Linked DNA regions of Homo sapiens. Each later gene encodes a partner of the first gene's protein in a complex. Links are inferred from orthologs where the notes say so. Each region holds a gene or a part of one and is shown in the gene's direction. Other genes may lie near its edges.

Region 1 (7,571 bases):
ACGAGGTCAGGAGATCAAGACCATCCTGGCTAACACGGTGAAGCCCCGTCTCTACTAAAAATACAAAAAATTAGCCATACATGGTGGCGGGCGCCTCTAGTCCCAGCTACTCGGGAGGCTGAGGCAGGAGAATGGCATGAACCTGGGAGGCAGAGCTTGCAGTGAGCCAAGATCGTGCCACTGCACTCCAGCCTGGGAGACAGAGCGAGACTCCGTCTCAAAAAAAAAAAAAAAAAAGGAAACTGTGGAAGAGTCAGGTGCGGTGGCTCACTCATGCCTGCAATCCCAGCACTCTGGGAGGCCAAAGCGTGCGGATTACTTGAGGCCAGGAGTTCAAAACCAGTCTGGACAACATGGTGAAACCCGGTCTTCACTAAAAAATACAAAAAATTAGCTAGGCATGGTGACACATGCCTCTAATCCCAGCTACTCGGGAGGCTGAGGCGTGAGAATCGCTTGAGCCTGCGAGGTGGAGGTTGCAGTGAGTTGAGATCACATCACTGCACTCCAGCATGGGTGACAGAGTGAGACTCTGTTTCAAAAAAAAAATAAAGAAAATGTGGAAGTATAAGTTTGCCATATAGGGATGAAAAGGCCTTCTTTTGTTTTGTTTTGGGAGATAGGGTCTTGCTCAGTCACCCAGGCTAGAATGCAGTGGTGTGATCATAGCTTACTGTAGGCTTGAACTCCTGGGCTCAAGTGATCCTCCCACCTCAGCCTCCTGAGTAGCTGGGACTATAGTCCAGTGCCTCCTTTTCTGGCTAATTTTTATTATTTTTTGTAGAGACAGGGTCTCATTATGTTACCCAGGCTGGTCTTGAACTCCTGGTGTCAAGCAATCCACCTGCCTCAGCCTCCCAAAGTGCTGGGATTACAGGCATGAGCTAGTGTGCCCAGCCAAGCATTCTTAATATAACTTCACAGTGAGTTCTATTATATCAAAATTAAGAATTTCCCTCCAATGAAGGATATCATGGGTGAAGCAAATTTTCCCCTGACAGAGTGGGAGGACAAATATACAATGTGTAAAACTGCACCTAGGTCATCAGGAGAGTTACATGGTTTAATAAATAGGAAGTTCTTGGAATGATGCCTGGCACATAGGAAGCTGTAGCTCATAGCTCACTGTAGCCTCGACTCCTGGGCTCAAGTGATCCTCCTGCCTCAGCCTCCCGAGTAGCTGGGACTACAGGCACACAGCACCACACCCATTTTTGTAGAGATGGAGGTCTTGCTATGTTGCCTCGGCTAGTCTCGAACTCCTGCCCTCAAGGGATCCTTTCAGCCTCAGCCTCCAAGTCACTGGGATTAGAGGCTGCAGCCACTGCACTCAGCAAAACAATGATGTTCTAACGCACACAACCTTCCCTTCTGCATGTGTTAGCTGGCATTCAAGGATGGAATTTTTTTCTTTTTTCTGTTTTTTCTTTTTCTTTTTTTTTTTTTTTTTTTGAGACGGAGTCTCGTTCTGTTGCCCAGGCTGGAGGGCAGTGGCGCAATCTCGGCTCACTGCCAGCTCCGCCTCCCGGGTTCACACCATTCTCCTGCCTCAGCCTCCTGAGTAGCTGGGACTACAGGCGCCCACCATCACACCCAGCTAATTTTTGTATTTTTAGTAGAGACGAGGTTTCACCATGTTGGCCAGGCTGGTCTCGAACTCCTGACCTTGTGATCCGCCCGCCTCACCCTCCCAATGTGTTGGGATTACAGGCGTGAGCCATTGCACCCGGCCTCTTTTTTCTTTTAAAGGAACAGAGGTAGCGCTCACATCTAAGCTGCTCACCATTGGACTTCCCAGCCTCAGCTTTTAGGCATTCCTCTTGAGCTATAAAATCGGGAAGGAGGGCTGGGCATGGTGGCTCACACCTGTAATCCCAGCACTTTTGGGAGGCCAAAGAGGGAGGATGGCTTGAGCCCAGGAGTTCAAGACCAGCTCTGTGCAACATGGTGAGACCCTGTCTCTATCAAAAAACAAACAAATGGGCCTGGCACAGTGACTCATGCCTGTAATCCCAGCATTTTGAGAGGATGAGGCAGTTGGATCACTTGAGGCCAGGAGTTCGAGACCGGCCTGGCCAACAGGATGAAACCCTGTCTCTACTAAAAATACAAAACTAGCCAGATGTGGTGGCGGGTGCCTGTAATCCCAGCTAATCAGGAGGTTGAGGCAGGAGAATCGCTTGAACCTGGGAGGTGGAGGTTGCAGTGAGCCGAGATTGCGCCATTGCACTCCAGCCTGGGCAACAAGAGTGGAACTCTGTCTCAAAACAAACAAACAGACAAACAAAGGAATAGACTGCGTGCAGTGGCTCATGCCTGTAATCCCAGCATTTCAGGAGGACGAGGCAGGTGGATCACTTGAGGCCAGGAGTTCGAGACCAGCCTGGCCAACATGGCGAAACCCCGTCTCTTTTAAAAATACAAAAAATTTAGCCGAGCATGATGGCGCACGCTGTAATCCCAGCTACTCAGGAGACTGAGGCGTGAGAATTGCTCGAACCTGAGAAGCGGAGGTTGCAGTAAGCTGAGATTGCACCACTGCACTGCAGCCTGGGTGACAGAGTGAGGCTCCGTCTCAAAAAAACAAACAAACAAACAACAACAACAACAAAAATTAGCCAGGTGTGGTGGTACATGCCTGTGGTCCCAGCTACTCGGTAGGCTAAGATGGGAGGATTACTTGAGCCTAGGAGGTGGAGGTTGCAGTGAGCTGAGATCCTGCCACTGCATTCCAGCCTGGCCAACGGAGCTAGACACTGTCTCAAAAAAAAAAAAAAAAAAATTCAGAAAGGAGGTGCCCAGTGCTGCTCTGTGTCTTGAGCAATCCCACAATCCCATCACCCCTTCTCCGGGCACTTCCTCATCAGGAAACAGGAGCCAGTTGGAGTCTGGCTCAGGACTCTGCAGCCTCAGTCATGCTGTCCCCTGGGCTCAGCATCCCGTCCTCTCCAAGTGTGCAGGGGGCAGCTTAGATGCCAGGCTCAAGCAGGGCAGGCAGCACAGTCCCACAGAGGGTACTGGCCAGCCCAGGCAACTGATTGCTCAGTGGGATGGCAGAGGTCAGCAGAACAGGAAGGGACGGACAATAGCTGTGCCTGTTGCCTGGCCTGCCACAGCAATCTCGGTGTTTGCCAGCTGGGTGGGGCTGGCTAGGCAATCCTCAGCAGCAAAGCTCAAGGTTCCATCTCCCATTTTAGTTTGCCCCTCTGCAGGTCCTGGTGGGACTGATATGCACAACATCTCACCCTGGGAACTGCAAAGAACCAGTCTTTCTATGGAGCTTGAGCAGGGTCTCAGCACTTAGAGGCTTCCAGGAACTACAGTTCCCAGAACACACAGCATTCAGCCCCAGTTGCTGTCCAAGTGGCTGGGTTTGAACTAGAACAAGGAAATCTCACTTGTCCCGGGAACTGAGCGTCCTGGCCTGGTCCAGGTGCATTTGTGACTCTTGTTTCTTGGATCTGTGTCCACCTGATAAATCCCCCTTCCTTATAAACTACATGGTCTATTTGTCCACACAGGTTTGCTGAGAACCTGCCGTGTGGCAGCCTGAGGTGGGAGTGAGGGGTTGACAAGAGAGACTCAGCCTCCACCCTCACAGTCAGATGGAGGAGACAGATCTATGAAAGGCTGGCTGGGTACCTTCTGTGACCTAGCACATAAACAAACCAACAAGCAGATAAACTATCTCACCCTTGTCTTTCATTGCATCTTGCCTTTCCACACTGATTTACTAGCTCCCACGATATTGCAGTATCCTAAAGCGTGCTGTATCTCTCTGTCCGGCTTTTGCACGCTCTGTTACCTCTACCAGGAGCACATTCAGCTTATTCACTGACGCGTCTTCAGAGGTAGGACAGAGTCTGGCACGGAGCAGTCTGGCACATTAAATATTTGATGAGTGAGTGAACGAATGAATGAATGAATGCCTTTGTCCATTGTACAGCCCAGGAAGCAGGGAAACTCGGGACCCTCCCTATTCATCTCGATCCCCCGCCCGCCCCCAGAGATTGAATGCATCTTTTTATCCGCTCCGAGGATGGCCAGGCTGGGGCAGAGGAGGCCGGGCAGGGAACTGGGTTGGGGACTGCCATTGACCCCCACCCAGGTCTCCTAAACTGTCCGCTTTCCTGGACGTCGGAAGTTCGAATCCTTTCCCCGAAACCTGGCCTAGGTCACCTGACTCCCCCGCCCCTCACCACCCAGGGCACCCGAGACTGACACTCAGCCGACAGCACGTGGTTCAGGGGCCCCAGCTTCCTTCCCATTGGCCGCTTGTCTCCTTCCTCCCTCGCGATTGGCCGGGGCCCAGCTGCAGCTCCCCCCCCTCCTCAGCCCTCCGGTGGTACAGCCAGCCGCGGCTTAGGCGGGGCGGAACGGTCCACTGCTTCGCGGCGAGGGGAGGAGTCGGGAAGAGCCGGGCGAGGCGGAGGGATCCCTCTGGAATGTTTCCGTCGGGTCCACCCGAAGCGGAAGACGCGGATTGGCTGCGAGCACCGAGAGGCAGCCGCTGATTGGCCGGCCGCGGGCGTCGGCCCCGCCCCCCAGGCGCCGCTGCGGGAGAGGCCCGGTCTGGAGTTTGCGGAGGGCCGAGCCGGGTGCGCACGGGGAGGCGGAGGCAGCGGCGGCGGCGGCGGCGGCGGCGGCGGCGGCGGAGCAGGTGAGTGGCCTCTGCGAGAAGGATGTGTCTGCTCCGGGGGCCTCGGGGGTCGCGGGCCTGCGAGGATCCGGCCGATCCTGCAGGGTGGGGCCGGCGCCGTGGACGCGACTGGAGGTCTAGGCTGCGCGCGGGGATGCCGGAGGCCCCTTCCCAGGGGAAGCGGGGGTGGGGGGTGGTGGGGGCAGCTCCCTTCCTGCTGGCGGGCAGGGGACAAACGCCTCCCAACGCTGGGCTGGGGTTTCTGGGCTTGCCCCTCCCCCCGTCCCCCGGCTGGACTGTCCCCATCCCAGCGTGGACAGGCGCGGGGTCAGTGTTTCTGACCCTTTCCTGGGCACTTCCCCTGAGCTAACCGCGTCTGAACCCTCCAGGGCCTTGGGGGGGACGCAGTGAGGACCACGGTCTGAATAATAATCGTCATGAAAAACTCCACCTCAGCTAGCATTTATTGGAGAGCTTCCGTGTCAGGCATTTACCATGAGGATAATTGACTCTAAACACCTCATGGGAGGTGCTGTGCCTTCTTGTAAAAAAGGTGAGGCAGCCTACCCAGAGAGGTGGAGTGACTTGCCCAAGGTCACACAGCTAGTAACTGGCACATCTGGGACTGGAACTCATGCCCCAGGGTCCAGAACTGGAGTCACACCCACTAGACTGGATACCAATAACTCCACGGCTCAGTTGTTGCTGAGTAGCTCCGGCCCCCTACCCCTCCCACCCCCTACCCCGTACTCATCATCAGGGCCACACCTGCTGGTCTTTTGCTTTACCAGCCACTCAAACAGGAAGCTGCCCTCCTTTCCCTTCTCCCCAGAGCTGGAGAGGGCAGGTCTAACTACCTGGGTCCAGAGAAGAGAGTGGCGTCTGCAGGGGGCCAGGATGCTGGGGTCTGGGCCCACTGGGTTCCCCCCTGGCAACCTGGGCCGAGGCTGGGAAGTAGGCGTTCTCCCCGGAAACACCCAGGAGCCGGTTTTTCAAGAGTGAATCAGAGGCCTCTTTCCCTCCTTCTCTCCAAAGCAACACTGTGCTGGAACGGGGAGCCTGGGCGTGGTTTCCCCCTTCCCCTAGCTTCTGTGTGCTCCCAGGAACCCCCTTCCCCTCCTCCTGCTGGCCACACTGCTTCTGTGTGGCCGTGGGGTTGCTAAGTTTCAGGCCCTTCCCAGGATGAGGGGGTGAGGATGCTGAAATTCCAGCCCAAACACTCAATATCCGGGCTGAAGTGGCTCTTCATCTCTGTGTTCAGGTGTGAGGGGAGCCAGGGAAAGTGGGGAGCCTAGGACAGTTGGCAACCGCACAGCAGGCATGTTTAGGGGGCTGTTTCAAGGATGGGGAGCACAGAGAGCAATCAGAACGAGGACCTGAGACACATTCATTCACTCAGTCTACAAATATTTAGTGAGCACCTGCTACGTGCATGTGCTAGGCACTGTTCTTGGCACAGAAAATGCAACAGTGAACAAAACAAAATCCCTACTTTTGAGGAGTTGGCACTCTGAAAGGAAGGAAGCAGCCAACAAACAAGTTAGCAAGTAAATAAAGAAGATAATTTCAGATGGCACTAACTGCTATGAATAAAATATGAGCGGGTGGTACTGTAGAGAGTAGTTGTGGGCAAGGGGTGCCAGCCCAGCAAAGATCAGGCAAGGGGGCCCGGGCGCGGTGGCTCACGCCTGTAATCCCAGCACTTTGGGAGGCCGAGGCGGGTGGGTTGCTTGAGGTCAGGAGTTTGAGACCAGCCTGGCCAACATGGGGAAACCCTGTCTCTACTAAAAATACAAAAATTGGCTAGGGGCATGGCTCACCCCTGTAATCCCAGCACTTTGGGAGGCTGAGACAGGTGGGTCAAGAGGTCAGGAGTTTGAGACCAGCCTGATCAACATGGTGAAACCCCCTCTCTCCTAAAAATATGAAAATTAGCTGGGTGTGGTGGCGCACGCCTGTAAGCCCAGCTACTCAGGAGGCTGAGGCAGGAGAATCGCTTGAACCCGGGAGGCGGAGGTTGCAGTGAGCTGAGATCGTGCCACTGCACTCCAGCCTGGGCTACAGAGCGAGACTCCATCTCAAAAAAAAATAAAAATAGGCCAGGCGTGGTGGCTTATGCCTGTAATCCCAGCACTTTGGGAGGCCGAGGCAGGCAGATCACCTGAGGTCAGGAGTTCAAGACCAGCCTGACCAACATGGAGAAACCCTGTCTCTACTAAAAATATAAAATAAGCTGGGCGTGGTGGCACATGCCTGTAATCACAGCTACATGGGAGGCTGAGGCAGGAGAGAATCGCTTGAACCCGGTAGGCAGAGGTTGCGGTGAGCCAAGATCGCGCCATTGCACTCCAACCTGGGCAACAAGAATGAAACTCCGTCTCAAAAATAAATAAATAAATAAAAATAAACAAATACAAAATAAAAATACAAAAATTAGCCGGATGTGGTGGTGCGTGCCTGTAATCCCAGCTACTCAGGAGGCTAGGGCAGAAGAATCGTTTGAACCCAGGAGGTGGAGGTTGCAGTGAGCTGAGATGGCGCCACTGCACTCCAACCTGGGTGACAGAGCAAGACTCCATCTCGAAAAAAAAAAAAGAGAGAGAGATGGGCAAGGCCAAGGTCTTTAGGCTGGACCAAGTTTGGAATCACATGGTTGGAGCAGAAGATGAACCCAGAGCAGCGATTCTGCAGGGGTTTGTGGGTCACAGTAAGGAGATTGCAGTTTTTCTTCCAGAAGGTGGGAAACTGTTGTAAAGTTTCAGGCAGGGCAGTGATGCCATCTGGTTTACGTTTTAAAATAGAGACATGAAGTTAAATGACAGCCTGAAGCTGGAAGACAAGAGTTCTGCCAGGGCAGCATGCAATTAAGTTCATGGGCCTGAGCCATCTGTACCACAGGGGCAGTTCCAGCATGCTGGGGCAAGCCTGGGAG
Region 2 (7,020 bases), on another chromosome or scaffold:
TAGTCCCAGCTACTCAGGAGGCTGAGGTGGGAGGATCACCTGAGCCTGGGAGGTGGAGGCTGCAGTGAGATGTGATCGCGCCACTGTACTTCAGCCTGGGTGCCAGAGTAAGACTGTCTCAAAAGAAAAAAAGAAAGAAAAGAAACCATTGAAGTATACACTTTAAATCACTGGATTATATGGTATGTACGTTATTTCACAATAAAGCTGTTTTATTTTTAAAGTGAGTATATTCAATGCAGAAAATTTTTGGAAAAACTGAAAGATGATAAAAGGAAAAAATACCCATCATTAATACCCTGTGTATTTTTGTATCTTCCCTCCCAGTCTCTTTTCTGAAAATACTATATATTAATAGATATTTTAATACATTATGTATATATTCCTCCCCACCCCAGGAAAGGTTATAATGTAATATTGCTTTGTAATCTGCTTTTAAAAGTTTCTTAATTTACAAGTAACACCTGGTCATTGTAGAAGGAATAGAAAATGCTCAAAAGCAGAAAGTAAACCGAAGTCACCCAGAATCCTCCCACCCAGGAAAGCCACTGTTAACCACTATTTCACACACACGTATTCCTGTTTCTTTTTTTTTTTAACGGGGCTAGACAAATTCTAACAGAGCTGTAACACTACACACTTCTTTTTCTAAGGACGGGTCATCAGGCATTGCTTTGCTGGCCATTCCCCAAGCCCTCTGTCCACGGGAGAGCTCCCCGCAACTCCCCACCCCCCACCCCAACCCTGCCCAGGAGGGAGGACTGCAGGGCCTCCTCCCACACCCTGCCCAGAGGAGCTGGAGCGGAGGCCAGAATACAGCAGGCGCCAATAAAGGCTTTCCAAAGGGCACCAGAGGCCTGACCTGCCTCTCCACTGCCCGCAGCCCTGTTCGTCTTCTGTACCAAGAGCCGACGTGCTGAGCGTTACTGGCAGAAGACGCTGCTGCAGATGGAGGAGATGGAATCTCAGATCCGAGAGGAAATCCGCAAAGGTAGTGGGCGGGGACCCTGCAGGGCTGGGCCTCAACTTTCCCTCCTAGGGGATGGGTTCTCGGGCCGCTCACGGCTGTCCGTGTGTCCGCCAGGCTTCGCTGAGCTGCAGACAGACATGACAGATCTCACCAAGGAGCTGAACCGCAGCCAGGGCATCCCCTTCCTGGAGTATAAGCACTTCGTGACCCGCACCTTCTTCCCCAAGGTCAGCCCGAGCCTGAGCCTGCCCTGAACCTGTGCCAGCCACCTCAAGGCAACTCGACCTCTCTGAGCCCTGCCAGCCTATAGGGTCCCTTGAGCAGTGCCAAACCTGCACAGCTGTCCGCAGCCGTCCTGGCCACTTGCCCTGGCCTGCCACGGGGAGAAGGGTTGGAGGCAGATTCTCCACTGTCATTCTCTGCTCACTTGATGTTTAACAGTCCATATGGAAGCCAGCTGCAGCCCCGCTGTCCTGGCCAGCTGGGCCTGCCTCTCCCCTTTTCAAGGTGGGGCAGAAGCGGCCAGGGCTGTCCCAGGCCAGCCTCTCTCCTTCCTGTGCCTCTTCCCAGCCAGGCTTCCCTTGGTCTCTACACTCCCTCCTCCTGTCCACTGGACTCCTGCCCCATCCCTTCCATGCCTCTCATGCCTCCCCTTGCCCTTCCAGGGTCCACTACCCTCACTCTACCTCCTAGTGGTACCACCCTCTCTCCCCTGTCCACACCATTCCCCACACAGTGGCCAAAGCAAGCCCATGTTTGACTACATCATTTTTCACGAAACCCTCCAGTAGCTTTTCCCAGCCTCAGGCTAAAGCTCAGACTCCCAGCCTTTCTGCCTCAGTTTCCCCCATTGCACATGGAGCTGCTTTTGCTTCCCCTTAAGTCTTGTGCTGTCTTGTGTGGCCACACCCCTGGAATTCCACAGCCCCCAGGCTTGGCCCACTGCCTCTTAGTCCTTTATGGGGAGCTAATTCCGTGCCAGTTTCCCCCAGCAGCCCAAGCCAGTGCCCCTTTCTGTGTGAGTGACCTTTCCATGCCAGCAGGGGGTGTCCAGCCCCGCTGAGATGCTGGGGGTCTGCCTCTGCAGTGTTCCTCCCTTTATGAAGAGCGTTACGTGCTGCCCTCCCAGACCCTCAACTCCCAGGGCAGCTCCCAGGCACAGGAAACCCACCCACTGCTGGGAGAGTGGAAGGTGAGTACCCCACGACCCACACACAGTGGGCTGCTTCAGGGCAACCCTGCTCCCCCCTGGGTCCCCTTTCCAGTTCATCTAATGCATTGATCCCTGTCATGCGGAGTTGGGAGGCATCTGCCATTGTAAGGTACTGAGCCCTCCATCCCAGGAGGCATTCAGGCAGCCATTCAGGGTATTATAAGTGCTGCCCCCGCAGGCCAGGTAGAGCAGACAGAGGATTGGGCCCCCCTGTACACCCCACTCAACCTGCTTAGAAAATGGAAGGTGAGAGTCCTCCACACTGGGATGCCAGGTTACCTCCAGGCACCCTTACCCTTCTCTGAGCCCCACTTTTCAATTCAACCAAGCTATTGTTCCCTGTCACAAAGGTTAGGAGGCATCCACCGTGGAAGGTAATGAGCTCCCCATCCCAGGAGGCATACAAGCAGCCGTCGTAAGCACTGGCTGTTAGGCTAGGCAGGGACACTGGGCCCCTCTGGACACCCCATCACCAGTTGCTTCCACAGATTCCTGAGAGCTGCCGGCCCAACATGGAAGAGGGAATTAGCTTGTTCTCCTCACTACTCAACAACAAGCACTTCCTCATCGTCTTTGTCCACGCGCTGGAGCAGCAGAAGGACTTTGCGGTGCGCGACAGGTCAGGCTGTGACAGACTGGGGTGGGGTAGGGAAGAGGAGCCTGTCCAAGGCCACACAGCATCAGGTCCTGGGTCCTGGGGCTCTGGGGCTCTTGACACCCCCATATTCCAGCCCTTCCTGGGCCGGGATGCCCAAGACCTTGGCTCACGGGGCACGATGGTTGCTGTGGACGTAGAAGAAGGTGGCTGTTTCTCCAGGAGGATTCTAGCCCCACTCACCCCTCGCAGGACCCACCCACACAGGCACTCCTGGGATCGATGGGCCCGGGGATGAGGCGGCACTGAGACCCTGGGACCCACAGCTCCTAGGGCCTCAAGGTGCAGTTGACACCTGCCTCCCGCTCACAGGTGCAGCCTGGCCTCGCTGCTGACCATCGCGCTGCACGGCAAGCTGGAGTACTACACCAGCATCATGAAGGAGCTGCTGGTGGACCTCATTGACGCCTCGGCCGCCAAGAACCCCAAGCTCATGCTGCGGCGCACAGAGTCTGTGGTGGAGAAGATGCTCACCAACTGGATGTCCATCTGCATGTACAGCTGTCTGCGGGTGAGGCTGCCTGGGGACAGACAGAGCCCAGGCGGGGGACGTGGCAGGGACTCAGCGGCAGTGACCCCACGGCCTCCCAGGCCTTCCCTGGCACCCTCAGGCCAGCTCTGCCAGGAGGGAGTGTTGCATGAGACAGGCCAGGCCCGTAGGACCTGTTATGCAGAGAGGGGAGCCATGGCCCCGGGGAAGCCTGGCTGGCTTGCTGCAAGGGCTCAACGGATGCTTGGGGCATAACAGAGGTTGTGTCAGGGGCCTTGTCCCATCTGTGGTTTTCTCAGTCATCCACCCTTCCCTGCTCTGGATTCAGGAGATGAAATCAGCCCCTGGCTGGCCCTTGAGGCTCTCCCAGCCCTAGGCTAGGCGAGACGTGGAAACAAAATACAGGGTGGCCAGTGCCTCGCAGCAGAGCTCAGCTCACGAGGCCTCCCTCTGTCTGAAGGCTTCAAGGTGGCTTCCTGGAGCAGGCAACCCTGTGCTGAGACCTAAGAGAGTGAGCCAGGCGAGGAGTGGTGGGGAGGGTGCTCCAGGCATCGGGTACAGCACAAGGGCAGAGGCCGGGAGGAGGGGATGTTCGTGGAAGGAATAGAAGGAAGGCCAAAGAATCTTCTGGATGAGAGCGGAGGCTGGGAAGAGGGTGGGCCCGGTAACCAGGGCCTCCTGCACTCTGCCAGAAGGACCCCCATAAGCTCTCTTCGCAGAGCAAGGGTTGCTTAGCCTCTTGTCCTGTCCCACTGTCCAGCTGCCCTATGGTGGCAGAGGCTAGAGGGCTGCCTGGAGGATTGTGGGAGAAAGGCAAAGGCCTGCCTGGAGCCCAGAACCGGGGCCTCGGATGTTCTGTTTTTTGTTATTAATTTTTGAAGAGATGGGGGTCTTGCTTTGTTGCACAGGCTGGTCCCAAACTCCTGAGCTCAAGCAATCCTCCCGCTTTGGCCTCCCAAAGTGCTGGGATTACAGGGGTGAGCCACTGCACCCAGCCAAGATGTCCTGGGCTTGAGTCCAATCTTTGGCACAGCCCAGCTGTGTGACTCTGGGCTACTCATTGCCCTCTGTGGGCCTTGGTTTCCTTCTGTCAAATGGGGCCTCTGCCCCTGAGCCTGGGGCTTGAGGGCCAAGTAGCCTGGGGGAGCCCCACGGCTCCTCCTGGGGGAAGGGGGTAGTGGGGTGGAGCAGAGGCAGGGCCTGGGAGGGGCCATTGGGGTGCCTCCGCCTTCTGCGGGCTGCCTCACTGTGGGCCATCAGGAACCACAAGGGCCACTGTGGACCCTGGACCTCACTCCCCTGGCTTCTTTCTGTGGCCTCAGCCAGGCCTTCCCCTATGAGCCTGTTTCCTCCTCTAGGAAGCAGGGAATCAGTGCCTCCCACGCCCCAGACCTGGAGAATTGGACCAGGACTTGGGCTGGCAGGCTGCCTTCGTAATCTTTGCCAAATCTGCCTAATACTATTATGTACTTAATTTTTCTTTAAATCAATTTTTGTGGATAGTTAAGTAAAACTATCCCAGTGGAACACCTGGGTCCCTTGCTGGGCAATGGCCTTGAGAATCAGCTCATGGCTGTGGGTCCAGCAGAGCCACTGCCTGGAGGGCCACCCTTGGAGATGGGCAAGAGCAGGGACATTGAGCCCCATTCCTCCTGAGACTCCATAGTCATCAGCCTGCAAGTGGGGTCGAGGCCACATCGGTGTTTCGGGTCCACCTAAACTCACACTTGGGGGCCCCCCACTTAGTAGAAAGTCACAGGCTTGGGAGTCAGCCGAGCCAGGTCCGATTCCTGCCCTGCCGCTTCCCAGCTGGGTGATCTTGGGCAGGTCACTTGCCCTCTCTGAGCCTCGGCACTGTTGGCTGCACAGTAAGAATGATACTCCGTATCCGGAAGGGTTGCCGGGATGATGCAATGAATGCACCCACCCACAGCTGGTGGTGTTTAATGAACACGAGCTTAGGGTCCGTGGAGACACCCTGGAGAGGAGAGTGTTGACACCAGGATCCAAAAGGAGACTGTTGGAGGGGTTGGGGGACGGGGGCGTGAAGGTGTTTGGCCCAAAGCATGGGGGCTGGAATACAGAGGGGGCCTTGGCCCTGATACCCCCGTGCCCCTCAGGAGACGGTGGGGGAGCCATTCTTCCTGCTGCTGTGTGCCATCAAGCAGCAAATCAACAAGGGCTCCATCGACGCCATCACAGGCAAGGCCCGCTACACACTCAGTGAGGAGTGGCTGCTGCGGGAGAACATCGAGGCCAAGCCCCGGGTAAGTCGGCAGGGCGGGGAGGGTCCCAGGGCTGCTGTGTCGCCGCCAACGGCATTGACCCAGCCTTCCTCTGCAGGGCCTTGCTGCCTGGGCACTGACATAGTGATGGCAGCAACTCACTGACCTTTCTCTCCCACTCTCCCCCTGCAGAACCTGAACGTGTCCTTCCAGGGCTGTGGCATGGACTCGCTGAGCGTGCGGGCCATGGACACCGACACGCTGACACAGGTCAAGGAGAAGATCCTGGAGGCCTTCTGCAAGAATGTGCCCTACTCCCAGTGGCCGCGTGCAGAGGACGTCGACCTTGGTGGGTGGGAATGGGGGCAGAGACCCCGTGTCAGGCGCTTCAGCCGGGGCTGGCCCCTGCCTTGACGGGAAACACTCCTTTCACCTGGCATGGGTGCATGAATGTGGGGACACTGAGAGGATCCAATGAGGCCCCCTCAGCAAGAAGCTCTTACTCTGTAGGAGACAAGTCCTGCAGTGTGAGTGAACTACGGACAACAGCAAAAAGCCTTCAGGAAAGGCTTCCTAATTCCTAAAGGAGGGATGCTGGAGTAGGGTTGGTTTGTTTGTTTGTTTTTGAGACGGGATCTCATTCTGTCACCCAGGCTGGAGTGCAGTGGCGCAATCTCAGCTCACTGCAGCCTCGACCTCCTGGGCTCAAGTGATCCCCTCATTTCAGCCTCCTGAGTAGCTGGGACTACAGGAGTGCACCACCACATCCAGCTAATTTTACTTTTTGTAAAGATAGTGTCATGCTGTGCTGCCCAGGCTGGTCTTGAACTCCTGGGCTCAAGCGATCCTCCTGCCTCATCCTCCCAAAGTGCTGGGATTACAGGTGTGAGCCACCGCGCGGGGCCTGGAGTGGGTTTTATAGGAGTCTTGGTTAGGCCAAGGGTTTCATCAGCAATTGTAACATGAACAGCCTTGCAGACAAGGCCATTTCCAGAGCTCCTCCTCTGTGCCCTCCACCCTGGCACCTTCTCTTTGTACCCTCACACTCTCCCCCAGCTCTTTCCTGCCCTCCCCATTTTACAGATGGGAAAATGGAGGCTCAGAGAGAGGTATGGCTTGCCTCAGTTTACATGGAGAGAGCGAGAGGCCTCTCCCTATGTGGCTGGGCCGGTACCTACCCCTCAGGCCCAGCTCCCTGCCCGGACCCTGATGGCCTGTCCCTTGTCCCCCAGAGTGGTTCGCCTCCAGCACACAGAGCTACATCCTTCGGGACCTGGACGACACCTCAGTGGTGGAAGACGGCCGCAAGAAGCTTAACACGCTGGCCCATTACAAGGTGCAGCCCTGCCCCCCGCCCCCATTTCCCCACCCTCATGCCCCCACCCCAACCTCCGGCCTCTGACCTCGGCCTCTCCCCTCCCATCAGATCCCTGAAGGTGCCTCCCTGGCCATGAGTCTCATAGACAA

The links. Proteins that work in one complex are often made in the same cells at the same time.
Region 2: the proteins of GIPC1 (region 1) and PLXND1 are in contact, whole or in part, in a crystal structure (PDB 5V6T), measured with the Mus musculus proteins. The link is inferred for Homo sapiens from one-to-one orthologs. Residues at the interface, in NP_061241.1 of Mus musculus: His61, Glu141, Ala142, Leu143, Gly144, Leu145, Thr146, Ile147, Thr148, Asp149, Asn150, Gly151, Phe156, Lys158, Arg159, Arg190, His191, Tyr192, Glu193, Ala195, Arg196, Leu198, Lys199; in NP_080652.2 of Mus musculus: Glu1400, Met1889, Glu1893, Arg1899, Gln1902, Gln1904, His1905, Glu1908, Ile1918, Tyr1919, Cys1921, Tyr1922, Ser1923, Glu1924, Ala1925.

The regions. Positions count from the first base shown.
Region 1 is NC_000019.10:14,493,126-14,500,696, reverse strand, and holds the start of GIPC1 (PDZ domain-containing protein GIPC1), read left to right. Parts: upstream 1-4,569; 5' UTR 4,570-4,660; intron 4,661-7,571. UniProt on the Homo sapiens protein: May be involved in G protein-linked signaling.
Region 2 is NC_000003.12:129,561,669-129,568,688, reverse strand, and holds part of PLXND1 (plexin-D1 precursor), read left to right. Parts: intron 1-883; coding exon 884-991; intron 992-1,084; coding exon 1,085-1,197; intron 1,198-2,057; coding exon 2,058-2,162; intron 2,163-2,671; coding exon 2,672-2,802; intron 2,803-3,150; coding exon 3,151-3,349; intron 3,350-5,448; coding exon 5,449-5,595; intron 5,596-5,745; coding exon 5,746-5,902; intron 5,903-6,785; coding exon 6,786-6,889; intron 6,890-6,979; coding exon 6,980-7,020. UniProt on the Homo sapiens protein: Cell surface receptor for SEMA4A and for class 3 semaphorins, such as SEMA3A, SEMA3C and SEMA3E. Plays an important role in cell-cell signaling, and in regulating the migration of a wide spectrum of cell types.